3 separate regions of the Homo sapiens genome follow, and regions 1 and 2 are each linked to region 3. The links come from fine-mapping of genetic effects on gene expression. A gene starts in region 3. Each other region holds a variant in brackets. All regions are shown on one strand. Distances are between the middles of the regions.

Evidence for each region. PIP is the estimated chance that this variant, and not a neighbour inherited with it, causes the effect.
Region 1: its variant is fine-mapped to the expression of NOL10 in whole blood (INTERVAL, PIP above 0.99).
Region 2: its variant is fine-mapped to the expression of NOL10 in whole blood (TOPMed, PIP 0.94).

Annotation. Positions count from the first base shown.
Region 1 is chr2:10,645,395-10,655,634 of GRCh38, forward strand. It overlaps NOL10 (nucleolar protein 10), which reads right to left. Exons shown (of 21, transcript NM_024894.4): 12 at 9,087-9,153. Among named protein-coding and RNA genes, the nearest start is that of NOL10, 39 kb to the right of the region's middle. RefSeq lists an enhancer at 8,562-9,761. The variant T/C (reference allele first, on the strand shown) is at 4,509.
Region 2 is chr2:10,554,744-10,564,983 of GRCh38, forward strand. No RefSeq gene overlaps it. Among named protein-coding and RNA genes, the nearest start is that of ODC1-DT, 110 kb to the left of the region's middle. The variant C/T (reference allele first, on the strand shown) is at 5,081.
Region 3 is chr2:10,685,071-10,695,310 of GRCh38, forward strand. It overlaps NOL10 (nucleolar protein 10), which reads right to left and starts at 4,905. Exons shown (of 21, transcript NM_024894.4): 1 at 4,726-4,905. The coding sequence starts at 4,791. It also overlaps the pseudogene RN7SL832P. RefSeq lists enhancers at 4,352-4,411, 4,472-4,751.

The DNA.
Region 1 (10,240 bases), 40 kb before region 3:
TTTTTAAAAATATTTTTTGCTGCCTTTCCTTTTATTAACACAAAAGTTTGTAAAAGTGATGATATTTGACTCTATTACAGAAATGAGATGCTGAGTGAATAGAGTCAATTACCACTCAAGCAGGAACTCAATACTATCTTTTTTTTTTTTTTTTTTGAGACAAGAGTCTTGCTCTGTTGCCCAGGCTGGAGTGCAGTGGCGTGGTCTCGGCTCACTGCAAGCTCCACCTCCTGGGTTCACGTCATTCTCCTGCCTCAGCCTCCCGAGTAGCTGGGACTACAGGCGCCCACCACGCCTGGCTAATTTTTTGTATTTTTAGTGGAGGGGGGTTTCACCATGTTAGCCAGGACAGTCTCAATCTCCTGACCTCATGATCCGCCCGCCTCGGCCTCCCAACATGCTGGGATTACAGGCATGAGCCACCGCATCTGGCCTCGATACTATCTTACCAAAACCACGTCTTGCCAATAACTCAGAAGTGTGAGCTAGCCCTGAACTGGGACCAACAGGTCACCAAAAATATATGCACACAAAACACACACACACACATACACACACACACACACACACACACCCCGTAAAAACATCTAAAAGCACCTAATGAAGTCTAAAAAAGCAAGAATAATGTCTAAATTAAACCAAAACAAAGTCAGAGCTGTTTTTCATAGCTTGTAACTCTTGTAGAATCTTTCATCTTAGCACTTTTTCTGGCCTTCCAAACAACGTTCACCGAGGTCATGATGGACAGAAACTGCCTCTGCTGATTGTGCTTCCTAGGTCTCCACTAACAACACTGCTGAAAGATCTCCAGGAGCCTTTGGACATAATTAAAGCAGTTCTGGAGACAGAAGCCACATCTTCACAACCAAAAGGAAGGTTCCTAATAAAGACCTCTCCTAAGCCTTCTCCACTGGCTCAACCCTGAACACTCAACAATGAACATTCCACAATGAAATACAACACCACCTACCAAACAAACCACGGAAAGGGCTCTAATGTAATTACACAAAAAAATTCAGACTGGACACAGCTAGACTGTTTTCTAAAAATGGAGGAGGATCTCACACAACCACATACGGCTAATGATACAAGCAGGTCTACTACCAAACTCAAGTGAGGAGGGTCAGGGCTGAAAGCAATTATGAATGAGAAAAAGAACATCATAGAGCCCAAAGAGTATGAGCAGCTTCTAACAGGCAGAAACAGAAAAATAAACCTGTGAAAGAAAGCCTTAGTTCAGCAGAAATTAAGATGATCAAGGCAGGAGAAGAGAAGAGCATGAGCATCGCGCCAGGCAAGTCACATTCTCAGCAAGTTACCTCCCTTGCTCAGGGCCACCACATAGCTAGTAAGTAGAGCCACTGACAGTCTACCAATTCCAAGGCTCATAACATGGGACTCTGACACTTCATCAACTAAGGTAAAATTAAAAGACCTCCTGCATGATCAAGTAAGAAACCATTTTAAAAAAGTCAGTATGAATACCACATGGCAACGTGAAAGATGTGTTTAATATAACATCAAACTGAAAAGCAAAAGATAACCGTAAGTACAGTGTGAGGACAACTTAAAACATATGAACACAGAATTAATATGGTTTCACCCATGAAGACAGTAATAGTACGTGACAGTACGTGTAAAGAGATTATGGCATTGAGGACTTTTTTCCTTTAAATTTATTTTAATGTAGTTTATCCACAATAAAACTATACATTTTTAAAGGAAGGAAAAGATATCAGCACCTGGAGTCAAAAGAACACATTTCCAATATGACCCAGTACACTATAGTGTATAGTACGCTGTAATAATACAATAAAAGAGAATTTGACAAAATAGTGCCCTCCCCAGAAACATGCACAAATCAGTACTCATCTGCATGTGCTCTGGGGACTAAAGGACTCACTGAAGTTCACAACACAAACACAGTGCTCTACAGCTGCTCAAAGTGTGTCCCCAGTGACAGACTGCAAACTGTTACCAGGCCAGGAAATAAGTGCAGAAATTGAAAAGAAGCATTTAGAAACCTGCAATTCAACACTGCAGTGACAACCAAATGTGTGATCATTTTCCTAGTAATTCATTTGTATTGTCTTTTACAGACGTATCAACGTGCAGTGGATTAGAAAATTCGAAACAAAACAAAAAACCAAAATCCTGGTCCTTCACCACACGTGTTGGGAAGTGCTGCGCAAAAACATATGGCATCAGTCACCACCTTGAACAGCTCAGAGGAGACAGGCTGTGCACGCAGAACTGTGCCAAAGGGGACTGGCAGGGGCGCTCCTGCCCTATTTAGAACCTCAGATGAAAGTATGGGGCATTTGAGTTTACTATACAAGGCACCAAAGATATTTATAGATGGCTCTAACAGTTTTCCATGTATTTAGAAGGCACTGACGGAATAAAAGGCTATTTCACACTTATCAGTACAGGTAGTCTTCAACAGCCCTGTAAGGCAGGTGAGAATTCCGAGGTTGGGTAATTTCTACCACTATTAAGCCTGAATTGGATCTTTCTTGAGCCCAGTGCCCCTGTTCTTTTCTCTCTACCATGGTTCTGAAACCACCGATGCTGATTCCACAGGTCTGGAGTGGGACTCAAGACACACGTAAGCTTTACAAGCTCCCCGTGTCATGAATCTGATGCACACCCAAGTCATAGAGCCGTGCTGTCTCTTCAAGTGCCCTGACCGGCATGGAGCAGCTGCTCACTGTACAGGTGGCTGATGAGCCATAGGAGCAGGGCCCTGAACAAGGCAGGAAGGCAGAACCATTTCCCAATATACTGAGCAGCCTTGGTATAAGAAAAATATTACAAAACCATAATCATGATTATGCTTCAATTACTCCAAAATGAGTAAGTGAAAAGAAAAAAGAAAGACAGTTTCAGCTTTTCTAAACTATGATTAAGCCCACAATGATTAAGCACCAGACACAAAGAGTTGAACGGGAGGAAAAGGTGTGGGAAAGCAAGGAAAAGCGGAGTGCAATCATCCGCCACACTCAGATCCAAGCCACAAAGAAGGGGCGCCTACGGGTCTTGTTCTGCCTGCTCTCTTATGAAATAAATTATTTGGCTAGCTTTTCTACTCTTGATTAACCTCTTACGAGTTATTAGATAGTAACAGTCATTCCTTTGTCCAAAACATCATGCTTAAAGTTGCTGGTTTGCAAGAAACTGTACTTTGTAATGACGACATCACTTAACAATGGGATCAACCTTACCCCTCTCCAATACTGCAACGACCTGGAGACCTCAGCAGCCTGCACATTACTCTTGCCCCAAATTTAATCTAAACTTAATTAAGTCTTTAGACTTAACTTCTATTTTAGAAAAAATACACGGTAGAGGATCAAGTTAAACAACATCACGAGAAAAAAAAATCACATAAATCGAGGATGAAGGATATTCTGAGACCACTGGCCTGATCTTTGAAAAGTCAACGTCATGGAGAAGAAAAGAAAAAGATGTGGGGGACTATACTGGATTGAAAGAAACTAAAGATACACAACAGCGAAATGTAACACACAACCTCAGTTATATCCTGGTTCAAAAAAACACAAAAAACAAACAAAAAAACCACACCTAACTAAAAAAGGGCATATGGGGAACAATTAGGAAAACCTGAAAATGGACTGGATGTAAGATAATATTAGAAAAGGGCTGCCATTTTTATTAGGCACAATAAGGGACCTAATAATTTCAATGATTTTCAGGAGATCAATGCCACCCTGGGTGCAGGTGAGTGCCACCATGTCTGCAGCTGGCTTTCGAGTGATTCCACAAAGAAACCACAACAACCACAGAAGCACAGAGATAAATAAATCAATTATGGTGAAGACAACAATAACAAACATTGAGGAGAGAATATAAAGATGTTCATTCTACCAGTTTTTCAACTTTTCTGTATGTTTGAATTTTTTTTTTTTTTTTTTTTTTTTTTTGAGACAGAGTCTTGCTCTGTCGCCCAGGCTGGAGAGCAGTGGCATGATCTCGGCTCACTGCAACCTCCGCCTCCTGGTTTCAAGCAATTCTCCCGCCTCAGCCTCCTGAGTAGCTGGGATTACAGGCACCTGCCACCACGCTCAGCTAAGTTTGTATTTTTGGTAGAGACAGGGTTTCACCATGTTGGCCAGGCTAGTCTCGAACTCCTGACCTCAAGTGATCTGCATGCCTCGGCCTCCCAAAGTACTAGGACTACAGGCATGAGACACTGCGCCTGGCCTGAAATTCTTCATAATTAAATACTGTGGATAAAGTGACCATTTTTGTTTATATTAGTAATATGGACCAGGGGTCAGCAAACTGTCTCTGTAAAGGGCCAGGCAGTACACACTTCAGGCTCTGCAGCCCCCCTGGTCACTGTTAAAACTACTCACCTCTGCCACAGTGCTGCAAAAGCCACATGGACAATGTATAAACGAACAAGGGTGGCTGTGTTCACATAAAACTTTATGCTGAAAGACACTGAAATCTGAATTTCAGTCACAAAAATTTGAATTTCCATG[T/C]CATAAAATATTACTCTTCTTAGATTTTTTTTTCCAACCATTTAAAAATGTAAAACCCATTCTTAACTCAAAGGCTGCAAATTACCAAGTGGTGGACTGGATTTGGCCTATAGGTCAGTTTGCCAAATAGACTTTTTAAAATGCTACTCATTAAGAATGTTTTCTGACCAAATTGTCAAACATTTCTTCATAAATATTACTTTAATAAGTAACTATTAAAATCACTGTGCTATAAATGCTTCTACAATTAAAATGTTAGCAAGATAATTTTTTTTTTTAGGTCTTGCTTTGTCACCCAGGCAAGAGTACAGTTAGTTTCAAGATCACAGCTCACTATAAACTCAAACTCCTGGGCTCAAGCGATCCTCCTGCTTCAGCCCTTAGAGTATCTGGGACTACAGGCGCACAGTGCCACTGCTTCCTGCTAATTTTTTTTATTTTTAGTAGAGACAGAGTCTTGCTGTGTTGACAAGGCTGGTCTTGAACTCCTGGCCTCAAGTGATCCTCCTGCCTCAGGATTATAGGCATGATGGGATTACAGGCGTGAGCCACTGCACTAGGCCACAACAATCTTCATTAAATAAGTGTTTTGGGCGTTTTTCCCAGAGAGAAACACTTTTAAATTTCATTTAAAAGCATGCTTATTTTTACAATTTTTATGCCATTTTAAATGACAAATCATTTAAATTTTTATCGTGAGGCCAGGGGAGAGCCGGCGTGATGGTGCGTATCTGTAGCCTCAGCTACTCAGGAGGCCTAGGCAGGATCGCTCGAGCCCAGGGGTTCAAGGCTGCAGTGAGCTATAATTGTGCCACTACACTCTAGCTTAGGTGACAATGTGAAACCCTGTCTCTGAAAAAATAAATAAATACAGACCAGGCGAAAAAATAAAATCAGCATTCCAGAGATGCGTAGTTGAATTATCAGCACCCTCTCAATCCATTTTAAGTCTCTTCCTCAGCAGTCACCTGGGTAACAACATGCACTGCTAACATCAGCCTCCCTCCTCTCCTTGTCCTTGTGATTCCAACCACTGTCGTCAGTGGTGGCATTTCAAGAATGGGTTCCTCAACAGTCTGAGCCTGAGTATTTCTCAGAAAGAGGCTTCTTTGCCAAGTAGTCACACCCTTTGTGGGTTAAGAGATCTTTACAGCCATTAAAGGTGGGGGAAGAGATGCACAAAAACTGACCTGAGAAATCAAGTTGCCCACAAGAGTCCACCCTCCAGCCCTGCCTCCTGGAGAAGCTGTTTAGGCACACAGCCTGCGGGGGCCAACAGATTGGCACTCATTTCAGCAGGTGTCTCTTTGGGCTTCTATATCCTTGGTTACAATGGAAAAACTGAGGCAGCCTACCAGGCTCAACAATCCCCGCTACACTGGGCCAGGCACAAGCACTACTAAACCTTACCAGCATCCTCAAGGGTTGAAGCTCTCCCAGTTTAGACCAGCACTGTCCAATGGAAAGAGCATGTGAACCACATATGTGATTTTAAAATTTTTAGTAGCCACATTTTTAAAAATGGTAAAATTAATTTTAATATATTTTACTAATCCAACAGGTCTAAAATATTTTCATTTCAACATGTAATTAATAGAAAATTATTAATGATCTATTTTACATCCTTTTTTCGTAGAATGTCTTTTAAATCCAATGTATATTTTATACTCACAGTACATGTCAATGCCCACGAGTGGCTAGTGGCTACCAAACTGTACAGCCCAAGGTAAGACTCTTTCTCTCCCAACTCTCTGTGCCCTTCAAACTGTCACTCCCCCAGTCGCACTATCCCTGCTCGTCACCCTTGCCCCAACCTCAGCTCCACCTGATTTACTCACTTACCTACTTAACCGAGACCCTGGTGTAGGTCATTTCAATACCCTAACTAGGACCCAGCATCCTCAGCTGCAATCTATTCCTGAACTCACCAGAATTTCACTTTACTCCCATGATTATAATAAAATTCTCTCAACTATTACAGATGAAATGCAAATTATAAAGTCCAGGGTTTCTCATCTTTCTTGGGAGAGCAGTGTGCAATTAGAAACAGCATGGGCAGCTGGGCGCAGTGGCTCACGCCTGTAATCCCAGCACTTAGGGAGGCTGAGGCGGGCAGATCACGAGGTCAGGAGTTCGAGACCAGCCTGACCAACATGGTGAAACCCTGTCTCTACTAAAAATACAAATATTAGCCGGGCGTGGTGGCGGGCACCTGTAATCCCAGCTACTCAGGAGGCTGAGGCAGGAGAATCGCTTGAATCCGGGAGGGGGAGGTTGAAGTGAGCTGAGATTGCGCCACTGCACTCCAGCCTGGGGGACAGAGGGAGACTCTGTCTCAAAAAAAAAAAAGAAAAAAAAGAAAAAAGAAAAAACAGCATGGGCACCAGAAACAGGAAGGCTGGGTTCTAAATGAGGCTCTGCCACACACCAGCTGGGTGACCAACCCTGAATGAATTACCCAATTTTTCTGACCCCTTAAGAGGTAAGAAAAAAACAGAAAGAAAGAAAAAAGAAAAAAAAAAGCCATGGACCACTGACTACACAGTTATAAAATATTAAATAAGTTTGTATTACAGCATCCATCATCCAGATTGATAACAGCAGCATGCAATCAATCTTAGTTCTTTCCTTCCTGCCCCAACTTCTGTAATCCTTAGTAGTTGCTAAGCAGTGCCCACTGAATCTCTTCCATACTTCAAAAACCGTGGGGCCTGGCACTGTCGTTCTGTCCATTCCCATCCGGTTTCTCAGCTGGCTCCTCCCCCTCATTCTCCCAAATGAACCAGCTCCTGCTCACTTCTTATCTCACTCCCAGCTTTCCCTATCAGTAATCTCATTCATTCCCACCACTTCTGGGATAATCGCAAAACTTTCTATCTACAGACCTGCTTACCCCAAGACCACATTTTCTACTGGACGCCAGACACGCCCCCCAAGCACAAGTCTGCGGATCGGTTCAGGGCTTGCCGCCTAAGAATCCACCGGGAAGTGTGTTAAAAACACACGTTTCTGGCCAGGCGCGGCGGCTCACATCTGTAATCTCAGCATTTTGGGAAGTGGAGGCAGGCGGATCACTTGAGGTCAGGAGTTTAAGACCAGCCTGGCCAACATGGCGGAACCCCGTTTCTACTAAAAATACAAAAATCAGCCAGGCGTGGTGGTGCGTGCCTGTAGTCCCATCTACTCAGGAGGCTGAGGCATGAGAATCGCTTGAACCCAGGAGAAGAGGTTGCAATGAGCAGAGATTGTGCCACTGCGCTCCAGCCTGGGTGACAGAGCGAGACTCCAACTCAAAAAAAAAAAAAAAACCACACATTTCTAAGCCCTTTCCATAGACACTATGAGTGAGTACACCTAGTATAAGGTCAAGGGAGCTGTACCTTTAAAGCTGTGCAGATGATTTTGATGGGAAGCCAGATAGTGCCAGATACTGCCACTGTCCTGTCACCTCCTAATCCTCACACGTTAGAAAAAGAAGCCATAATCTTTCCAAACTTGCTCTCTCACCTGTGCTCCCCATCTCAGCTCAGAATATCAGTTACTTCCAAGGCACTTTTGTCCAAAACCAATCTACCCTTTGCACAGTGGGTAGACCTGCCTCTGAAAGCACAGTCGGAACAAGTCCTCTCTGACAGCACACGGAGCCCAAGACATTTAGCACATCATGCCCAACCCTCTACCACCCACCACTCTCTGCCTCCCACTTCAGCCTTCCCAGAGCCACCACAGCTCAGGCACAGGACACTCCTCCCCACCCCAACCGAGCCCTCTGTGCCCATCCTTTTTGGTCATCTTGGACTGCTCTCCCATGAGAATCACCTCAGCCCCCCAACTCCACCTAACCAAATCTCACTCGGCACTCCAGCTCAACGCAAAGCAAAATCTTCTCACTGCTCCGCTCTCGGTGGTCACAGGGTAAAAGCTCTCTCTCTCCAGCAAGCTGTCAAAGTACTCTTTGCACAAATGTGATAGGAGTTCTCACGCTCTGCCTTACTTCTCTCTATCAAGATGATCTGGGTACCTCTGCCCTCAGAGTAGAAACTATTCTCATTTTTCTCCCATACTCTGAAATTCTTCACAGATTTGCCTTGAATGCACTGTTAAATTTTGAAACCTAACATGTAAATTGCTGAATAGCATACAACTTAGAATTTACAAAACCTATGGCTTCATGAGCCATCTGTGTATTATCAGGCAATCTAGCTTTCTCCAAATCTCTACCCTCAATTTCCACACACTATTACTAATCACATAAAAGAGCTAAAGAGCACACTAAAATAGCACTTCACCTGCCTCCTACCTGTATGCTGTTACCACGTTCCACTAATAGCTGGGCGGGCTGAGCACTGAGTCATTAAGAGTGCCATTTTCTGAATCATCCACACCACTTCCTGCTCTTAATTCTTCTAAGTAAGTTAAATATCCAAGAATTGTGCTGACAAAGCCAAATTCTATCTTAAGAAATAAAATGGGTTTAAAACCTAAAAAAGTATAGCCTTTTTATTTGTCTCACTGAACGTTCACTACAGAATGCATCTTTTTATTTGTCTCACTGAACGTTCACTACAGAATGCATACCTGAGTTGGGGTAGAGACAAACATCATTAAGGTCATGCTCTGGCTCCAAGGAAGTAAATATTTTTCCCTAAAAATAGCAAGCAAAAACGAAGTATTAAAAGTTAAAGAACAACAACTTTGGCAATGTCAAACTGAAGCTGTAACTCAACCATCTACTCCTATGTAAAGAAATAAAATAGCCTACTTCAAATACAAAATTTAAATTCTTAAAAATCTTAGAGAATTTATCTTATCAATTTATCAAAAAATCCCATTTTATAGATGAAGAAACAGGCCTAAGGAGAAGAAGTGACCTGTCCAAAAAAAAGAAAAATTACAACATTTTAAAGATAATGTCAACATGGCAAGAAAAGATGAAGTTTGAATTATGCATCAACTTTAAAAAAAAATCTCTCATAATCTGTGAAGTGTACCCAGCTTAACTTGTATTGAAAGAAATCGGAAGACAGCTGGGAGCAGTGGCTCACACCTGTAATACCAGCACTTTGGGAGGCTGAGGCGTGGAGATGACTTGAGGTCAGGAGTTTAAGACCAGCCTGACCAACATGGTGAAACTCCGACTCTACTAAAAACACAAAAATTAGCCGGGCATCGTGGCCTGCAACTGTAATCCCAGCTACTAGGGAGGCTGAGGCAAAACTGCTTGAACCCAGGAGGCGGAGGTTATAGTCAGCCAAGATAGCACCACTGCACTCCAGCCTGGGGCGACAGAGTGAGATTCTGCCCAAAAAAAAAAAGAAAGAAAGGAAGAAAAGAAAGGAAGGAAGGAAGAAAGGAAAGAAAAGAAGGGAAAGAAGGGAAGAAAAGAAAAAGGAAAGGAAAGGAAAGGAAAAAAGAAAAGAAAACAAACCAATCAGAGGAGAGAGATGGCCAGCATGGAAAATGAGGACAACACTGCCATGCCTGCACCGCAAGGTTTCGAGGAGGATCAAGTGAGACAATGGATATGAAATACAAAATGAAATCCTACAAATACTTAAGTGTTAGTTACTATGTAGTTAGGGCTAAACCATTTCTATTTTAACTGTTGGGGAAAAGTGTTTTATCTTTTAAAAATTAAGAGAAGGAAAGTAAAAGAAAAAGATGCTAAGAAGGTGGGTGTGGAAAAAGGTGATGAGAAAGATAAACAAGGTAAGCAAGTCAGGCAAAACCAA
Region 2 (10,240 bases), 130 kb before region 3:
GGGAGTTCAAGACCAGCCTGACCAACATGAAGAAACCCCATCTCTATTAAAAATACAAAATTAGCCTGGCGTGGTGGTGCATGCCTGTAATCGCAGCTACTCAGGAGGCTGAGGCAGGAGAATTGCTTGAACCTGGGAGGCGGAGGTTATGGTGAGCTGAGATCACGCCATTGCACTCCAGCCTGGGCAACAAAAGCGAAACTCCGTCTTAAAAAAAAAAAAAAGAAAAGAAAATGGTTAAAATAGCAGAGGAATTCTCCCCATGCAAGGGACAGGCCATTTCTCCTTGTCTGATGAAAAGTTCTGCAGATGCCCCAGGTGACAGTGTGATGCTTGTTGAGCAGTGGGCCAGGCCCAGCCTGGGATAGGGTCCCAGTGTTGTGATGGAGGGGAGGCTGGTGTCCAGGACGCCAGGGGCACCCAGTGCTCCTTTGGGTGCTGGCTTCACGCGTGGAAGTCGCGCAAGAGTCACGGAGGTAAATTCAAGTTGAGTCATTTGCAGGATGTGCAGAGCGGGGTGGGCCCTCCAAACTTGGCAACCTTGGAGGAAATGGTTTTATATTTTTTGACTCTCATGTAACCTAGACACTCAGCTGGGACTCTATTTCCTATTTCAAGACTTTTCCAAACAGTTGTGTTTCCAAAGACCTTCCTAAACACACAGCCAGGGGAAGGAACAGGACCTGCTGCTCCAATTCCCTCGGCTCCCAACGCCCCTCAAGTGTTTGCACAGGAAAATGGTAGCGTAGGACACCAGGCGGGCAGGAAGCCGCAGGAATCTCAGAAGCTGCTTTCTGGATTTGACCTCAGGCAATTAAAAAATAGCAAAATAGATGGTGAGTGAAGAGGGTTTATGAGCTGCAGACCCGCAAGGCTCTTGCAGGCACCGAAAGACACAACGGAGAGTCTGCCTGTGCGCACGCAGGCCTAGCAACCAGCATTTGCTCATTGTGCATTCCTGCACTCTCGGGGAACTTAGGGAGCCTCCCGTGGGGCAGGCAGAGGCTGGGAACTAGAGCAGGAAGGCCCGCGGGTCCATCCCATGGTCTCACTCCCTTTCCTCTTGTCCCCTTCCCCTTGGGGCATTCCCAAGGCTGCAGATACCGCTTACCGAGCGGGGCCCTGGCGGGGAGGGATGCGGGCCACAGCCAGATGGGACATCTGGTTGCTCTCTCCCGAAACACCCAACTCATTTCCTTCACCCTGTGTGGCTGCAAGGGCCAGCTGGCCTCCCTCCGGGGGTCCCTCAGCGTAAGCCGGTGGGGAGCTCCGAGGCTTGGTTTCTTCTGTCTCAGCAGACCATTTGCCTTGGTGCCTTATATTGTGTCTTTTTTTTTTTAATGGATTTTAATTTTTCCAACAGTTTTGGATTTACAGAAAAATTGAGAAGATAGTACAGGGAGTTCCCATAAACCCCACATCCAGGTTCCTCCATTATTAACATGGGGCATGAGTCCGGCCCATTTGTTCCGATGAATGGACTGACAGTCATTCTTCAGGTCCACTGTTGGCTCAGATCTCCTCAGTTTTCACCTTAAGTCCTTTTCTGTTCCAGGATCCCCTGCAGAAAGCCACAGGCCATTTAGTCATGGCCTCTTTAGGCCCCTCTGGCTAGGACAGTTCCTTGGGCTTTTTTTTTTTTTTTGTCTCCCTCTTTAGACTGGGAGCTCCTTAAGAGCAAAGGTAAAGCTCGCCCCCGCGAGTCCCCCCATGGTGCCTGACGTCACGCTCTGCCCATCCCAGGCCTCCATGGGTGATGAGAGGCCTGAGTTGAGGCACCAGCCCCAAATGTGTGCGATCACGCCATTGAGCAGGGAGAGATGGGGCTGGGGGGAATTTCACTTGCTTTTGTTACATTTCTGTAACATTTATGTCTTTAAAAATAATCAGCATACGTTTCTCTTCCAATTAGGAAAACTGCAGCAAATCAAGCCGGGAGCTGGGGCCTGGGCAGTTCATGATCTGGCTGGGTTCCCCGCTCAGGCAGTTCACGCGCACAGACCGCCCCCTGGAAGAACTGCGGCTGGAATGAGCAATTCTCCTGAGAAAGCAAAGACACGGACTCACAAGGGAGTTCTGGGCAGAAACGGAGACGGAGATTGGAGTGAAGCGTCCACAAGCCAAGGAGTGCCAAGGAGTGCCAAAGATTGCCAGCAACCCCCAGACGCTGGAGGAGGCCGGGAAGGAGCCTCCCCAGGAGCCTTTGGAGGGAGCAGGGCCCTGCTGACACCTCGATGTCAGACACCTGGCCTCCAGGACGGTGAGAGCGGGTTCTGTTGTTGCGAGCCACCCAGCTCTTGGCACTTGGTTACGCGGGTCACAGGACACCAGTAGAGCCATATCTACTCATTCATTTCAGAAACGTTGTGCCAGTACGTACCAGGCACTTTCAAAGACACCGGGGATACGGAAATAAAGAATAAATGGGATCCTTGCTCTCAGTGGAGTTTCCATTCTAGTAGAGGAAGATGAGCAAAAATAAATAAATGATAACTTCTGTCTGGGCGCGATGGCTCACATCTGTAATCTCAGCACTTTGGGAAGCTGAGGCGTGCAGATTACCTGAGGTCAGGAGTGCGGGACCAGCCTGGCCAACATGGTGAAACCCTGCCTCTACAAAAAATACAAAAATTAGCCAGGTGTACTGGCACACGCCTGTAGTCCCAGCTACTCAGTAGGCTGAGGCAGGAGGATCGCTTGAACCCGGGAGGCGGAGGCTGCAGTGAGCCGAGATTATGCCACCACACTCCAGCGTGGGCGACAGAGTGAGACTCAGTCGCAAAAAAATAATAAAAATAAATAAATGATAAGCTATGACAGCAGGGAGAGCTGTGAGATCCACACAACAGAGGTGTCAGAGAGGGTGTGGGTTCCCTTAGGCTGCCCTTGCCAGGCACTACAAGGTGGGTGGCTGAAAAGGAAGCACCACCAGGCGGCGACTGGGTTCGGCCCATGGGCCATTGTTTGCCGCCCTGCTCTGTATAACAGGTGCCTCTCCTGGGGGCACACAACGGGCCATGCTGATCTCCCTGTTTTGTAGGGGGAAAGTGAGGCAGGAGGTTGCCTGACTGGTCCCTGAGCAACCATGGGCGTGGACACAGGCACGTCTCTCCAGAGTTCTTTCTGGTTGGAGGTGGCTTGTCTTGGTCCATGGACCTGCAGGGCCTGACTTCTGATGGGAAGGAAACTCGTAGCCACTCTGCTGGGGGACAGGGTCTCTGGGCAGAGCGCCAGTGTCTTCTCACCTGTCCCAGAGCCCTGGCCCACAGCCTCCTCCCACCCTACCTGGCTCTGTCCTCCGCTGCACCCAGGCTGCATTTCCAGGAAATGCCTCTCGTTTCCCCACACAGGGAAGGAAGCAGGAGGCCCTGAGCCGGGATCAGCCTCCAGCTCAGCTCCCAGGAAAATGGGTGCACCTCGCCTCACCCCTACCCTTGGGCCCACCCTGGCTGAGGCTCAGATCACCACATGCGCAGCTCTCCTTGGTCCCATGCCGACTGGAGGCCAGAATTCGGGCTGTTTTGAGCTAATACAGATGAGTTTCTTCCCCTCTCTCATGCCCTTCTCCATTCATTCACTTATTCATTAAGCCTGTATTTAGTAAGCACCTGCTGTGCACAGCGCTGTGCTGGGCGGCAGGTGCCTTGATGACGAGGCCTTGCCATGGAGTGTCCACCTCGTGGCCGCCAGGCCCTCCAGGGCACAAGTGTCTTCACAAGACTTAGGCTTTGAAGGAAAATGAGTCCAGTTTGGCGGGACTGTGGGAAAGAGGGGTGCTCCACTCCACGTCCAAGCTGGACAGGAAGACCCCACCCTCCCCAGGAAAACCAGGCAACGGGAGGCTCACCTGACTCCACCTTCACAGTGTGAGGAAACTGAGGCAGGGGCTGAGCGGCAGCTTCCGAGACCCTCCAGCCCCTGGTCCTGCCTTGGCTGCGACTGGGCCTGTGGCACAGCAGGGACACCACAGCCCAATCGTGAGCAGGAACATGGGGATATGTGACCCCCTCAAAGCCCCTCTTAGCAGAGGTGGGGCTCTCAGACCTGAGCAAGATTCTGCTCATGTGGCCCCACACAGACAAGGGGTCCTGCTTCCTGCACTCCAGGAGGTGTGTGAGGTGCCTGTGGTGGGTCCAGCCCTGAGAAGAAGCAACGGCGGAGTGACAGGGTCTTTCCTGTCCAATCAGGACCATGGAGCTAGAGCAGCACCTGAGGAGCTTTGTGTCCTCATCCAGGGCCACAGTCCCCATTGCCCCATTCATTCAGTTGCTGCTGCCTGCCAGAGACTCACATGGAGCCTCTGAACATGGCGTGCCCCACGTCCCACTGACAGCGCTGTGTGTGCTCCTGTTTGTGGAAACCAGGGCAAGGAGGGTGAGTGACTTGTCCACTGTCATGCAGCTGCTGCGCGGTGGGGCTGGGATTGCACCCAGGGACTGACCCAAGCCCCTGCCCAGCCCCAGGACCCCAGATTCTGGGCTGGCCCCTGTGCCTGAGTTTTAGGACCCCCACCACCGCCCCAGCATTGCCACGCTGTCTGCGTTTCTAGGCTGAATTTTGTTCTCATGGAGGGAGGGACCGTCCTACCTCTTATGCACCCACACCCCCATCCTGCTGCCCGGGACAGTGCCAGGCTGCCGGGGGCATTTGATGAGATGTGACGTGTAAAGAATCTGATGGTGCCTGGTACAGAGTCGTTCCTGCAGGATGCTCAGCCTCACCCCTCCCCGCCCATCCCGCCAACATCTCTGGCCCAGTGCAGACCCAGCATAACCATAGATGTGGGTATGGCAGGAGCATTATTCTGGTGGGTCCTGCCCACAGGACAGTCCTCTATCCGCATGACAAGATGCCACCACAGTGGCCTCTACAACGTACAGTAAGCACTCACTGTATGTACAGCAGGAGTAACCGTGCTCTTTGCCATGGCAGAAGGTGGCAGTCGCAGCAGTGTTGGCTGTCATGGCTGCTGGTGAGGCGCTGCGCCTCTGTTACAATGGGAACCAGCAAAATGAAATTTACTTATTGTTGCAAGATAATAGCCAAGCCTTTTAAACATATGCTTTTCAAACAAACTCAT[C/T]GCCATGGTAACCCTCTTAAAACAAGATGCAACCTGGCTTAAAGACCCTGAGAGCTAATTCTAGTAGTGCTTTGTATTTAGTTACGCCTTTCTTCTGAATTTAATGGACTTCACTCACTAGGCTCCACTAACATCCTCTGAAGTCTTAGGGGACAGATACTATTAAACCCATTTTACAGATGTAGACACCAAGGCACGGACGGGTTAAGTGACTTGGCCACTAACTGAAATCTTCGCCATGAGCAAGTCCGGACCAGACCCAGGTCTTGTTTCCTTCTGTTGTCTTCACTCATCAGACCGTCCTGGACTTTGAAAGCCCATCATCATGAAAGGCTTAGAGTTTCCCACAGCTTGGCCTGGGGAGCCCAGATGCTGCTGCCATTTGCGTGCAGGGAAGGCTGCTGGGCCAGGAGGCTGCAGAGGCGAGCAAAGGGCAAGGAGGAAGTTGTGGCTGAGGTTCCCGGGATGAAAAGATCCCCACGGAGAGCTCCATGGGCTGGGACAGCAATGCAAGGACCCAAGTGCCCCACAACTCACTCTGGTACAGCTGACACCAAGCCACACCCGCCGGATTACAGGGGAATCTTTTACTCCCTGCCAGCCCCAGGGGCCAATGGCGTCTTCCTTGAGCATCCGGGCAAAGCCCTGCCTCGGGCCTTTGCACCAGCCAGTGGTTCTCAGGTGGGGCCCCAGGCCAGCTGCAGCAGCAGCATCTGTGATGTTGGAAATGCAGGTTTTCTGCCCCCACCTCAGACCCACTGAATTAGAAACTCCACCTTACATGCCCTCCAGGGGCTTCTGATGCACCCTGGAGATCTCTGCCTAGAATGTTCCTCCCGGATACCCTGGCCAACTGCCTCCCCTCCTTCCAGGCTTTGCTCACTTCTCACCTTCTCGGAGAGGCCTCTTCTGAGCCAGCCGATTTCTTGCATTCTCAGCCCTGCCCTCCCAGCTCTCCTGCCTGCCCAGTGGCTCGTGTGGCCTGCATTGTGTCTACTGGATGCATCGTCTGTCTCCCCCGTGAAACATAAACTCAAGTAAACGGCTCTTTTTGCTGAGTCAACTGCAGAGTGCTCGATAAGTAGTGCTTGCAGGAACTGTGACTTCTGGCTCAGGTTGATAGACGGGCGAATGAGGAGTAGCAGCAAGTGTTCGGGTGGGTGGGATGGGGTGGATGAGTTTTGCTTTGAGCATGTGGAACTCAAGGTGCCAGCGGCCACCCAGATGAAAGGCCCAGAGGCTATCTGGGAGGCAGCTCTGGGACACTGAAGAGAGGTGACACTATGGAAGGAAGAGTGACAGGCTTAAAGAAGACATCCTGGAGCATGTTAACACCTGCGTGGGTGAGGATGAGGAGTCGGCAGAGACCAAGGAGGCCGAGGACAAGAGGGAAATGGAGGCCGTGTCGAAGCTCCCAGGGAGGCTAGCAAGGCTGGAGATCAGGAGATGAGCTTCCTCTCCCACGAGCTTGAGTGGTGAGTGGAGGGGACTGGAGGTGGGTCCCAGCAAGGAAAGGGGTGATGTGCAGAGGGAAATGGGGACAGAGAAGGGAGCGCCAGGAGAAATCAGAGCAGTTCTGCAGAACCCTGGAAGGCAGACCTAGCAAGGGCAGGAGGAAGCTAGGGAAAGGGCGGGGAGGGAGGTTTTGATTCTCCAAATCTCAACTCACAATGAGATCATCTGAAATGGGAGAGAAGGCAACTCGGGAAATCCAATCAGGTAGGCGTCTCAGCCAGTTCAACTAGAAGATCCCTCAAATCCTGAGAGGCTGAGATTCGTGATTTTGTCCTACATTGGAAAGAAACCTAAGGCTACCAGAAAAATATAGTTGGCCTCCCTCCACCCTACCGCTTTGAAGTTCCATCTGGGTTTACAGAATAGTCACAAACAGGGTCTGCAACTGACAACAGTGAGAGAATAATAACTTCCTCGTGCATTAAGATGTGCATCTGGGACTCCCATTGGGCAGGATGCCCAGGGAGTGGGGAGGGTTCCACCCCCTGCAGGGAGCTGCACACCCGGAGCCCGCACCAGCATGGTGACCTGTGTCCCTCCTGACACTCCTGCCTCAGGCCGTCCTATCTCCAAGGGTAAGGACTGACATTTTCTTAGAAGTTTCCATTCACCCAGTATGTGCTCATGGGGAACAACAGATGTTTTGAGTAGGAGGCAGCATGCTGGCCAAAATAGTTCTTTCAAATATTAACTGTCAGATTTGTTATTGCATTAATTTTGGAAAATGTACACGTTAATAAAAAAAAATTGTAAGATAAAAATTTTCAGGACTGAAAATTTCCCCACGTTCAAAGAGATGTGTAATGTCCTAAATCAAGCTACTATAATTATAAATGGTTAATATAAGGAAACTCCAAATAAAGGCAATTACACTATTTCCCAAGGGGAAGAAAAAAAATTATGCCAACTTGTATATATAAACTTTTTAGGGATGTCAAAGAAATAAGCAAATATTTACTCACGGTATTTATTTATACATACACTTTAAAAATCACGTATTCTAACACTTTGCTGTTTCCTTCCAAAGTTTTGAATAGAATTCAGTTGCTCCAAGACACACATTCATTTACATGTGGGTTTTTTTTCTTTACTAAAATACATTTACTTTTAGTATTCTCAAGTGCAAAAGAGAGTTGAATCTTCTATTGCATATGAAATGGAGACTAGTCTTCCACAAAGAGTAAAATGAAGTTTTGTAATGGCCATCATCTGTAATTGCTTACAATGACAGCATAAACTCTAGGATTTTGTTTTAACTTCATGGCTACATGGGTAAAGTTAGGTTTGAAAATCATTTCAAAAACAAAATTTATCAAACAAAAAACCTGGACAGGTTTTTATTTTTTATTTTTTTGAGATGGAGTTTTGCTCTGTTGCCCAGGCTGGAGTGCAGTGGCGCGATCTTGGCTCACTGCAACCTCTGCCTCCCAGGTTCAGGTGATTCTCCTGCCTCAGTCTCCTGAGTAGCTGGAACTATAGGCACCTGCCACCACATCTGGCTAATTTTTTTGTATTTTTAGTAGAGATGGGGTTTCACCATGTTGACCAGGCTAGTCTTGAACTCCTGGCCTCAAGCGATCTGCCTGTCTCAGCCTCCCAAAGTGCTGGGATTACAGGCGTGAGCCACTGCACCAGGCCCTGGATAGGTTTTTAACACATTGAAAGTTTTCCTTAGAAAGAACCACAAAATCTTTTAAATTTTCCTAAAAAACCCTATAACTATTCCATAAAATATATTTTGTACTTAATTTATGCTGAAAATAGAGCTTTGAAAAAAATAATTAAAAACTCATCTCGTGTCTTCAGTCAAAAAAAATTCTCATAAAACTCCAGCAAAACGTTTCATTACACAATTTATCACATTACAATAGGAAGAATTACACATTTGGGGGACACATTTCAGTATGGGCTTTGTCAACATACTCCTGCAAGAATGCCATCAGTTGATTAGGGTAGTAGGCAGTGATTCTCAACTCGGGGTTGGAGCCCTCATTAGTGGGTGGTGGAACCATAGTAATGGGTGTGAACTTTTTTGGGGGGAGGTGTAAAGGAACTAGAGCAGGACTGGATAGAAAAATAACAGCGTCCTTTGTATGATGCAAGATAACAATTTTCTAATACCTTTGATGTACGTGTATTCTGCACCATGATGTCAAATGGATTTCTTACTGTGGGACAAAGTAAAAAAAACATTGAGGGAGGCTGAAGCACAAGAATCACTTGAACCCGGGAGGCGGAGGTTGCAGTGAGCCAAGATCGCGTCACTGCACCCCAGCCTGGGCGACAGAGTGAGACACTGTCTCAAAAAAAAAAAAAAAAAAAAAAAAAAATTTTGCCAGGCGAGGTGGCCCACGCCTGTAATCCTAGCACTTTGGGAGGCTGAGGCGGGTGGATCACGAGGTCAGGAGATTGAAACCATCTTGGCCAACATGGTGAAACCCTGTCTCTACTAAATATACGAAAACATTAGCTGGGCGTGGTGATGCATGCCTGTAGGCCCAACTACTCGGGAGGCTGAGGCAGGAGAATTACTTGAACCTGGGAAGCAGAGGTTGCAGTGAGCCAAGATTGTGCCACTGCACTCCAACCTGGTGACAGAGTGAGACTCCATCAAAAAAAAAAAAAAAAAAAAAAAAAAAAGAGAAAAAAGAGATAGAATTTTGGAAACCCAGAGAGGCCATAACAGGGAAAAGAAAAAGCAGGCCAGGTGCGGTGGCTCACACTTGTAATCCTAGCACTTTGGGAGGCCAAGGTGGGTAGACTGCCTGAGCTCAGGAGTTCGAGACCAGCCTGGGCAACAACAGTGAAACCCCATCTCTACTAAAATACAAAAAATTAGCTGGTCATGGCAGCGTGTGCCTGTAATCCCAGCTACTCAGGAGGCTGAGACAGGAGAATCACTTGAACCCGGGAGGTGGAGGTTGCAGTGAGCCGAGATTGTGCCACTGTACTCCAGCCTGGGCAACAGAGCGAGACTCCATCTCAAAAAAAAGAAAAAGAAGAAAAAGAAGAAACCGGGTTTCTCAACTCCATGTCCTGTGCTTTTCTGACTCTGCAAGAGCCAAGAGGTGTCTTCCTAGGATGGTCACAGGGAGGTAATTCCCCCAGCATGGAGGGTCTGAGTCAAGGGTAAGCTCTGTGCAAGGTGTATGGCGGGGCGGGAGAAGGTTACCTTGCCCATAACCTTGCTGCTTACTCCGGTGAGAAAAGAGAAGCAATCAGAAGAGCATGTCCACCTGCTCCCCTCACTGCCTCTGCCTACCCACCCGCCTACCTATCTACATTTGCCAAGTACTCCGCCAGCCCTCTCCCTATGATCTGCCGTGTTTCTGTAGGCCTGAGCTCTACATATGCACTACATCCCATTCCCTTTGGCTAGCCGTAGTTTAAAAGTATGTCCACAAATTCCTTCTGAAGTTGCCAAATCTAACAAATAAAAATACAGGTCATACATTAACTTTGAGTTTCAGATAAAGTCATTATTTAGTGTAAGAATTCCCTATGCAATATTTGGAATACACCTATACTAATAAGCCTTTGTTTATCTTTATTTGGATGTCTGGCCACCCTACTTTGTACTTAGTGACTCCCTTCTAACAAATCAGAGTAAGGGATGACATGCAACTTCTAATACTAGGTCACAAA
Region 3 (10,240 bases):
AGCAGAAAGCCTCAAATATTATGGGTTATAACTAAATATATGGAACAATTTAATCTATTTAAGTGAGAATTTAAAAAGTAAAACATTTATAGGAGAATGTTTCTTATAGAAATATATTTTTTACAAGGAATAAAACCAGATAAATAACTGACCAAATAGCTGATACTTGGCCAGGCATGGTGGCTCACGCCTATAATCCCAGCATTTTGGGAGGCCGATTGAGACCAGCCTGGCCAACATGGTGAAACCCCGTCTCTACCAAAATACAAAAAATTAGCTAGGTGTGGTGGTGGGCACCTGTAATCCCAGCTACTCGGGAGGCTGAGGAAGGGGAATCACTTGAACCCGGGAGGCGGAGGTTGCAGGGAGCTGAGATCTTCCCACTACACTCCGGCCTGGTGACTGAGAGAGACTCCGTCCCCCCCCCCCCCCCCCCCGCCAAAAAAAAAGAAAAAAACAGGCTTAACCACTAGAAAACTAACGAAAATAAATTTAACGGCATTAAAAATACAACAAAAGCTGATTAACTCCAGAATGGGAGACTGTAGGTCAAATTGTGTGAATAAAAATCGTAGCCCCAAGTCAAAAGTGTGATGGAGCTGAAAATGAAAATTAACTTTATTCATCAATACATTAAACAAATATTTATTTAGTACTACTAAATGCCAGTAATTAGGTATAGCAGTAGTAAATAAAACAGGAGGGAAAAAAAAGCCCTCTTGGCCAAGTGCAGTGGTTCATATCTATAATCCCAGCACTGAGGCAAGGGGATCACTTGAGCCCAGGAGTTCGAGACCAGCCTGGCAATAAAGTGGGATCACTGTCTCTACAAAAAAAAAAAAGCAGCTGGGCATGTTGGTACACACCTGTAGTCCCAGCTACTCAGTAGGCTGAGGTGCAAGAATCATTGAGCCCAGAGAAGTCAAGGCTGAGGTGAGCCATGATTGTGCCACTGCACTCCAGCCTGGGCAACAGAGTAAACCTGTTTCAAAAAAAAAAAAAATTTAAAAATCTAAAAACCCCTCCTTTCATGAAGCTTTCTTTCAAGTGAGGGAACACCAACAAATAAGGAAGTAAAACAATTAGAATGTCAGATGGTTATGTATGCCATGGAAAAAATAAAGCAAGAAAAGGAGACGAAGTGTTGGTGGAGAATTATAATTTTGAATAAGGTTAAGGTCCTCTTGAGCAACGACCTGAAAGGCATGAGGAGGCAAAGCCTGGAGAACATCTGGGAAAAAAGCAGGCAGGCAGGACCTGTGCCAAGGTCCTACGGCAGGAGTGTGCCTGGTCTCGAGCAGTGAGACTTGTGAGGCCAGTGTAAGGTGGAGAACAGTGACCGCTGAGCTCAGAGAGGAGGGCAGGAAGGCACAACATCAAGTAGGACCTTAAAAGTCACTCAAAGGACTCTGCTTTTCACCCCCAAGAGAGCAGGAGCCACTGGACAGTTCTGAGTAGAGGATCACCCTGGCAGCTTACTGATAACAGACTGTGGAATAAAGGGGTAGAGGGTGGAAACTGAGAAACTGCTTAGAAGTCAACTGCAATAACTGCAATTGCATAGTCAGGGGTGACAGTGTCTTGAATCAGTGACAGTAATGGAGGTGACTGGATTCTGGATCTATACTGAAGATAGAAGCAACAGCATTTTCTAGTGGATTGTATGAGAGCAAAGAAACAACAACAAAAAGCCTCCAGTGTTTTTGGCATCAACAGCTTGCGGGATGGAGTTGCCACTGGCTGAGGGAGGGAAGACCACTAGGTTGCAGGAGGGGGAAATGTGGGGGGAAAGCTGGTGTTCTACTTTGGACAAGTTAAGTTTGAGATGCCTATCAGACATCCAAGCGGGGATGTCAAGAAACAGTTGGATACACAAGTCCAGTTCAGAGTAGAGGTAAGGGCTAGAAACATCAATGTGATAGTTATCGATATGCAGATGTGCTTAAAGCCAGGAGACTGCCTAGGATCACCAGGGGAGTAAACGTAGAGGCTTCTCTACATTAATAAAAAGGTAAAGCCCAGAAGGAGAGAAGCAATATTTGCACAGATCAGACAACAACTGGGGTTCCACGTGTAGTTTAGGCACCACACCTCAAAGAAATAACCAGAAAATATTAAACAGGACAAGCAGGGGTTTCCAAATCCACTCAGCTCAAGCTACCCTCCCCACCACTCCACTGGAGCTCCTTGCCAAGGTCAAGGGCGCTCTGCATCATGCCAAAGTCGATGGTCATTTTTCTGCCTTCATCTTACTGAAGCTCTCAGTAGCAGCTGACACAGGTGACCACCACCTCCTCCTTGAAACACTTACTTCTACAAAACTACACATTTCCCAGTCTCCCCTTCCATCAGTGCCCACTACTCTTTCTTCTTTGCTGGGTTCCCCTCCTCTTCTTGGATGACAAATGCTAAGACTGCCTCAGGTCCTCAGCCTAGTTATCTTCTCTGTTCTTTCTCTCACAATTTGATCTCACCTAGTCCCAAATAACGACAGTAAATTCACCTGCAATCTCCATCCTAGTATCCATGCAACTGCTAACTACTCAACATCTCCATTTGGTATGTATTAGAACTTCAAATGTTCACTATTGAAAATAAAAACCTTGGGCCGGGTGCAGTGGCTCATGCCTGTAATCCCAGCACTTTGGGAGGCCGAGGTGGGTGGATCACAAGATCAGATCGAGACCATACCGGCCAACATAGTGAAACTCCGTCTCTACTAAAAATACAAAAATTAGCTGGTGTGGTGGCACGTGCCTGTAGTCCCAGCTACTGGGGAGGCTGAGGCAGGAGAATCGCTTGAACCCGAGAGGTTGCAGTGAGCCAACATCAGGCCATTGCACGCGACCTCAAAAAAAAATCTTGATTCTTTTTGCTCACTACGTTCCTCCTCTCCACCTTTCAATGTGTTCCTTCTTGATTCTTCTCCATGTCAGTTAGCAGCACCACCGTGCACCCACTTGTTCAGACTCAAAACTGAAGAGTTCTCTGATTCCTTCCTTTTTGTCACCTCAACTTCCCTCTACCAACAGTCCAATCCATTAGCAAGTTCCATTACCCTATCTACAAAGTATGTCCTGAATCTCACTGTGTTTTAGCATCTTCTTTGTTACCAGGCAAGCCCAAGCCACCGAAGTCGCTCACCTGGACTACCTAATTCATCCCGACTTGAACCCTCCCCAGCTAGACATTTGTCGCACAGCAGCCCACACAACAGTGACTTCCAGCAGCACTAAGAATAAAACTTGAACTTCCTACCTTTCCTACCAGGCCTACCTCTCCAGCCTCATCCACCCTGCTCTCGCCCCCTCACTCAGCATAGTGCAATCACACCTGTGCCTCTTCCGTCCTCCTACATGTCCAGTGCATTCCCATGTGGGGCTTTTGCACTTTCTGTTCTCAGCACTGAAAACTCTTCCCCACATCTTCACACGACTGGCTCCTCTTCATCATCCAAGTTTCTGCTCATATGTCACCTCTTGTAGAGAGGCCTTCCCCGAAGGTTTTATCCAAAACACTTTCTCTCAATATTTTATCCAAAACAGCTCTCTTCTAATCATTCACCACGAAAAGTACTTTTTGACTACCTTAAATTGCCTTATTTGCTCACTTGTTTATTTCCCTTTTCCCCAACAGGGAACCTTATCTGAAATGTCCACTATAGATCCCAATACTTAAAACAGAGTTGCTTGCACACAGTAACTTCTCAATACATGTGGAGAATGAATGAACAAAATGAGAAAGCTCATGGGGTGTGAAGAACAACTGGAAGACAGGGAATTATTCAAACCAGAATTTTAGGAAGAAAGGAAAAACCTAAGCACTGGCTCCAAATTTTTGTAGAAGCAGACGCATGGAAGGAGAGCTATATTTATTCTGTTTTCCAAGGGCAGGACTCAGGCCAACAGTGGCATGCTATAAGGTGACATATTTGAAAACCACTTTCTAACAAGTGCAGAGTCTCAAAATGGAAATGAGCTTCCACAAAAGGTAGTGCTCAGTGGTAGTGCTTGGACAGAGGCTGGATCATCACGTATAAGAAACAAAAGACAAGTTTCAGAGCCTAAGTGTGTCATGCTGGACAAGTCACCCTTCCCCTTGCTGGATCTCAGCTGCATATTAAACGCATTATTAAATCTCAGCTGCATTACTAAACACGAGAAGATTGGAAGAGAATTACCGACTTGTCCAAGCCCTCTCCAACTTTAAGACTAGGAATCAGGTTAAGTTCAACAAGTCTCGAAAATACTGTCCTCTACACCATAAATTCTGCAGATGCGAAGTCTGTATCTCCCTTGTTCACTGTTGTATCCCTAAGACCTGGCAAATGATAGGGACTCCACAAACAGCTGATGGCCATATGGGGGAGAGATGTGTCAACGAATCTGCCACGTTTTCCTCCTCGATGTACGGCAGGGACTGTGAACACCCAAAGAGGCCCAAATGGTTGCGTTCTCTGGAACAGAGAACTTTACAAAAGTTCCAGCAAAGCTCACTGACCCTGATTATCCCTTGGTCCAGTTTCTGGCGCGGTGACGGCAGTGTCCTTGTCTCCCAATGCCGACACCTCCCCCGGAAATTGTCAGCCGCCTCTGGGCCTCCCCGAGTCGGGGGGTGACCAGCGTCCAGCTAAAACAGAGGCTAGGGCCGAGGAGAGGGGCGGCTGCCCCACGAGGAGGACGACCCCCAAGAGCTCGAGAGTGAGGGGGCCGGGAAGTGACTCACCTCAGGAAGGGACTTGCCGCAGCTGAGGCTGTAAATCTTCACCTCATTGAGGCTGGAGACCTGCATGGCGCCGCACAACACTGTTCAAGTCCCGGGTCCTTTCCCACCAGCGTGCTCGAGCACCGTAATCCCGGGACCTCCGAGCCCCTGCTCCGCGGCGTGCGGCCGCTGGCGCCGACTGATGACGCACTTCCTGGAGCCGGAACACGCGGGCAAGTTCCCGGAAGAGGGAAGGTGGCTGAATCCGGGAAGAGCGGCGGCCGGGAGAAAAACTAGTGAGGCTCTGACAACCCGGCGTGGCTGTCGGCGACGCTGCTACGGGCAAGACTAGACACAAGCCGGGCGCGGTGGCTCACGCCTGTAATCCCAGCACTTTGGGAGGCTGAGGCGGGCGGATCACCTGAGGTCGGGAGTTCGAGACCAGCCTGACCAATATGGTGAAACCCCGTCTCTACTAAAAATACAAAAAAATTAGCCTTGCGTGGTGGCCGGCATCTGTAGTCCCAGCTACACGGGAGGTTGAGGCAGGAGAATTGCTTGAACCTGGGAGGCGGAGGTTGCAGTGAGCTGAGATCGCGCCGCTGCACTCCAGCCTGGGGGACAGAGCGAGATTCCCTCTCAAAAAAAAAAAAAAAAAAAAAAAAACTAGACACAGCTCTCCCTGCTGTTAGCATCCCGAGCGGCAGGAGGAGGCTTTCGAGTCTCTGCCCAGGCCGAGATGTCATCCTCCCGGGCGGGGGCGAGGCAGTTCAGCGAGTGAACCCAGCGAATGAAGGCGACCAGGGTGCGAATTCCGAGTGGAAGTGTATTCTCTTCTCTCCTCCAGTGTTTCTGCGATGTTACGTTAGAAGTACTGTAGGCCGGGTGCGGTGGCTCACGCCTGTAATCCTAACACTTTGGGAGGCCGAGGCGGGCGGATCACCTGAGGTCAGGAGTTCAAGACCAGCCTAGCCAAGATGGTGAAACCCCGTCTCTACTAAAAATACAAAAATCAGTCGGGCCTGGTGGCGCGCGCCTGTAATCTCAGCTACTCTGAAGGCTGAGGTGGGGGAATCGCCTGAACCCGGGAGGCAGAGGTTGCCGTCAGCTGAGATCGTGCCACTGCAGTCCAGCCTGGGCAACAGAGTGAGACTCCGTCTCAAAAAAAAAAAAAAAAAAAAAAGAAGACTGTGGCGTCATCTTCAACCCATTCCTATCTCTGGCCCTCACTTTCAGTATCTAAACCTGGATATTTCTAATTATGAAATATTTCCTTAAAGTAATCTGTTTTCATTCCTCCTGCTGAAACTCAAATACTTAACTATTTTTGGATTATAACTTTCCCAAGTGATCTTCTTACTTCCTTTGATTTAATGAACAAATTATTTTATGCCTTACTTTCTAAAACCCAAATATTATTGTTTTGCTCTCCTACCCACAACATTTTGGAAACTCTCAAATACCAACACCACATTGCATCAGAATTAGGTTGAGAGTTCTTCGTGGACCCTATATCATTTGTCCTTATATTCCCTATCCACCCCATCCACCCCTACCCAGAGTACCAGAACAGTGCCTGGCCTCTATTAGGCATTGCTACATATTTACATTTAGCCATGTACGTAGGGATATATTCCTTAACTCTGTCCTCAAATTTAAGATCCTCCACAAATTTTTAATTTTCTACACTGGTTACAGTTAAGAAAAACTGTAAACATCTTTGGGAAAGGTGGCATAATAGAATGGTTAGATCACAGACTCTGGCTTGGCTTGGTGGTGCAGGCCTATTGTCCTAGCTACTAGTGAAGCCGAAGCAGGAGAATCACTTGAGCCCAGGAGTTCTTGGCTGTAGCACGCAACGAGCGTTGGGTGTCCTCAGTTTGGCATCAATATGGTGACCCCACAAGAGCCAGGGACCACCATGTTACCTAAGGAGGTGTGAAGCGGCTCAGGTCAGAAATGGAGCAAGTCAAAACTCCCATGCTCACCAGTAATGGGATCATGCCTGTGACTAACACTGTACTCCAGCTTGGGCAACACAGCAAGACCCTATCTCTTGAAAAATAAATAAAGATCACAGACTCTGAAGCCAGACTGGCAAGATTCAAATCCCGACTGCCATTTTTAACTGAAAGACCTTAGGTAAGTTACCTAACCTCTCTGTACCTGTGTAAAATGGAGATAACAGTAGTATCCACTTCACAGAGTTATGAGGATGAAATACATTCATATTTATAAAACGTTTGGAACCCAGTACTTGGCACATAGTAAGACCATGTAAGTGTTTGTAAAATAAAACTGAAAATAAAGCCATATACCAAATAAGTGGAAATGTATCCAAATTCCATTAACATTTCCTTTTTAACAGTTTTATTGAGATATAATTAACATACTGTAAAATGTCCCCATTGAATGTACAATGTAATGACTTCTAGTGTATTCAGAGTTCTGCAACCATCACCACAATCATTTTTAGAACAAAAAGAAACCCCAGCCTCAATTAGCATTCACTCCATGCCCCATCCCCCACCCAAGCCCTAGACAACCACTAATCTACTTTCTGTTGGCGTTGTGGGTTTTTTCCATGGGGGCATCTCACTTTGTTGTCCAGGTTGGAATACAGTGGCATGATCATGACCCACTGCAGCCTCAAACTCGAGCTCAAGCTGTCCTTCCACCTTATCCTCCTGAGTAGCTGGGAGTACAGGCACACCACCAGAGCTGGCTGTTTTGTTTTTATAGAGATGGGTCTACCAGTTAAGCATCCCTAATCCAAACATTTCAAGTCCGAAATGCTCCAGTGAGCATTTCCTTTTGAGCATCACATTGACATTCAGAAAGTTTCAGATTTTGGAGCATTTTAGATTTTGGATTTTCAGATTAGGGATACTCAACCTGTATTTTGTAAGGGCACCAATCCCATTCATGAGAGCTCTGCCCTTAAGACCTAATCATGGGCTGAGCACGGTGGCTCACGCCTGTAATCCCAGCACTTTGGGAGGCCAAGGCAGGCAGATCACGAGGTCGGGAGTTCAAGACCAGCCTGGTGAACATAGTGAAACCCCTGTCTCTACTAAAAATGCAAAAATTAGCCGGGCATGGTGGCACGCACCTGTAGTCCCAGCTACTCAGGAGGCTGAGGCAGGAGAATTGCTTGAACCCGGGAGGCAGAGGTTGTGGTGAGCAGAGATGGCGCCACTGCACTCCAGCCTGGGCAATAGACCGAGACTCCGTCTCAAAAACAAAAACAAACAAACAAAAAAAAACTAATCATGACCAGGCGCAGTAGCTCATACCTCTAATCCCAGCACTTTGGGAGGCTGAGGCGGGCAGATCACTTGAGGCCAGGAGTTCTAGACCAGCCTGGCCAACACAGCAAAACCCTGTTTGTACTAAAAATACAAAAATTAGCCAGGTGTGGTGGTTGGCACCTGTAGTTCCAGCTAATCTGGAGGCTGAGGCACAGGAATCGCTTAAACCCGGGAGGCGGAGGTTGCAGTGAGCCAAGATTGTGCCATTGCACTCCAGCCTGGGCAACAAGAGTGAAACTCCGTCTCAAAAAAAAAAAAAAGGCTGGGCATGGTGGCTCATGCCTATAATTCCAGCACATTGGGAAGCCGAGGAGGACAGATCATGAGGTCAAGAGATCGAGACCATCCTGGCCAACATGGTGAAACCCCATCTCTACTAAAAATACAAAAATTAGCTGGGCATGGTGGCACACACCTGTAGTCCCAGTTACTGAGGTGGCTGAGGCAGGAGAATCGCTTGAACCCAGGAGGTGGAGGTTGCAGTGAGCCAGGAGGTGGAGGTTGCAGTGAGCCAAGTTTGCGCCACTGTACTCCAGCCTGGCAAAAGAGCGAGACTCTGTCTCAAAAAACAAAAAAACAGAAAAGTGAGTTTACGCCATAAATCACTGATTTCAGGACATTCATTTTTTTTTAGCATCTCTGAAAGGATGAGTCTAGTGTATCGTGCATATCTTGAGGGAATGGTGCATCTTATAGGTAATGGTCTTTTAGAGTCAATAAAATAAAGTGCATATAAAGCACTTAGAACAGTGCCTTACACAGAACACTACATAAGTGCTAGTTATTAGAAAACCAAAACATTAAAAACTATTCCAGAAAAACTAGTTGTTACAGATTCCAACTAACCTTAAATGTTCTGCTGTTAGTTGCCATTCCAGAAACCTTCAAATAACATTCAAGCTTGCTCTCCTAAATTTTTTTTTTTTTCTGAGACAGTGTCTCACTCTGTTGCCCAGGCTGGAGTGCAGTGGCGGGATCTCAGCTCACTGCAACCTCTGCCTCCCGGGTTCAAGCGATTTTCCTGCCTCAGCCTCCTGAGTAGCTGGGATCACAGGCGCATGCCACCATGCCTGGCTAATTTTTTAGGCTAATTTTTGTATTTTTAGTAGAGACGGGGTTTCACCATGTTGGCCAGGCGGGTCTCGAACTCCTGACCTCAGGTGATCCTCCCACCTCAGCCTTCCGAAGTGCTGGGATTACAGGTGTGAGCCACCGCGCCTGGCTCCTCTCCTAATTCTTTACCTCCATGGCCAGTAGGTCTCCGAAGCATTTGGTTCCTTCTTTCCAATATCAGATTCCTTCTCTGTTCCTGCTGCCGCAGGAGTTCAGACCTCATTGTCTCCTACCTGGCCCACTGTAGTCCCTTTTCCTGTTCTCCCAGCCTCAAGTCTGCCTCCCATAAGAGACAAACTCATTCTCTCTAACAGGCAAATCTGATTATGGTGCACTCCTACAAAAACTCTTCAATCCTCCTAAAGCCAAAAAGAACACACCTGAAGGTCGAGTACAGTGGCTCATGCCTGTAATCCCAGCACTTTGGGAGGCTGAGGTGGGTGATCACTTGACCTTAGGAGTTTGTGACCTGCCTGGGCAACATGGTGAAACCTTGTCTCTACAAAAAATACAAAAAATTAGCCAGGTGTGGTGGCACATGCCTGTAGTCCCAGATACTTGGGAGGCTGAGGCAGGAGGATCACCTGAGCCTAGGGAGGTCAAGGCTGCAGTGAGCCATAATCGTACCACTGCACTCCAGCCTGGGTACCAGAGTGAGACCCTCTCTAGGAAAAAGAAAATACTACATTCGAACACCTTTGCAGGTTCTGGCCTTATAGGCACCTGGCCCCTCCTTCCTTTTCCAGCCAGTGCCGAAGCTGCTGCCTCTCTCCTGCATTCACTACCCTCTCCAAAAATCCTGGATTACTGACAGCCTGAAAAATACAAGGCCTCTCTCACCCTCTTCTTGCCTTTGCTCCTGCTCCTCTGGCTACTTTTAACACCCTCCTCTGCACAGTGCTGTGGTTTGAATGTCCCTCCAAATCTCACAGTGAAATTTAATCTCCAATGAGGCTGTATTGAGAGCTGGGGCCTAGAAGAAGTGATTGGATCATGAGGACTCTGCATTCATGGATAAATGGGTTAATGGATTCATAGGTTATCATGGGAGGGGAACTGGTGGCTTTATAAGAAAAGGAAGAGAGACCTGAGCCGGGACACTCAGCTCCTTC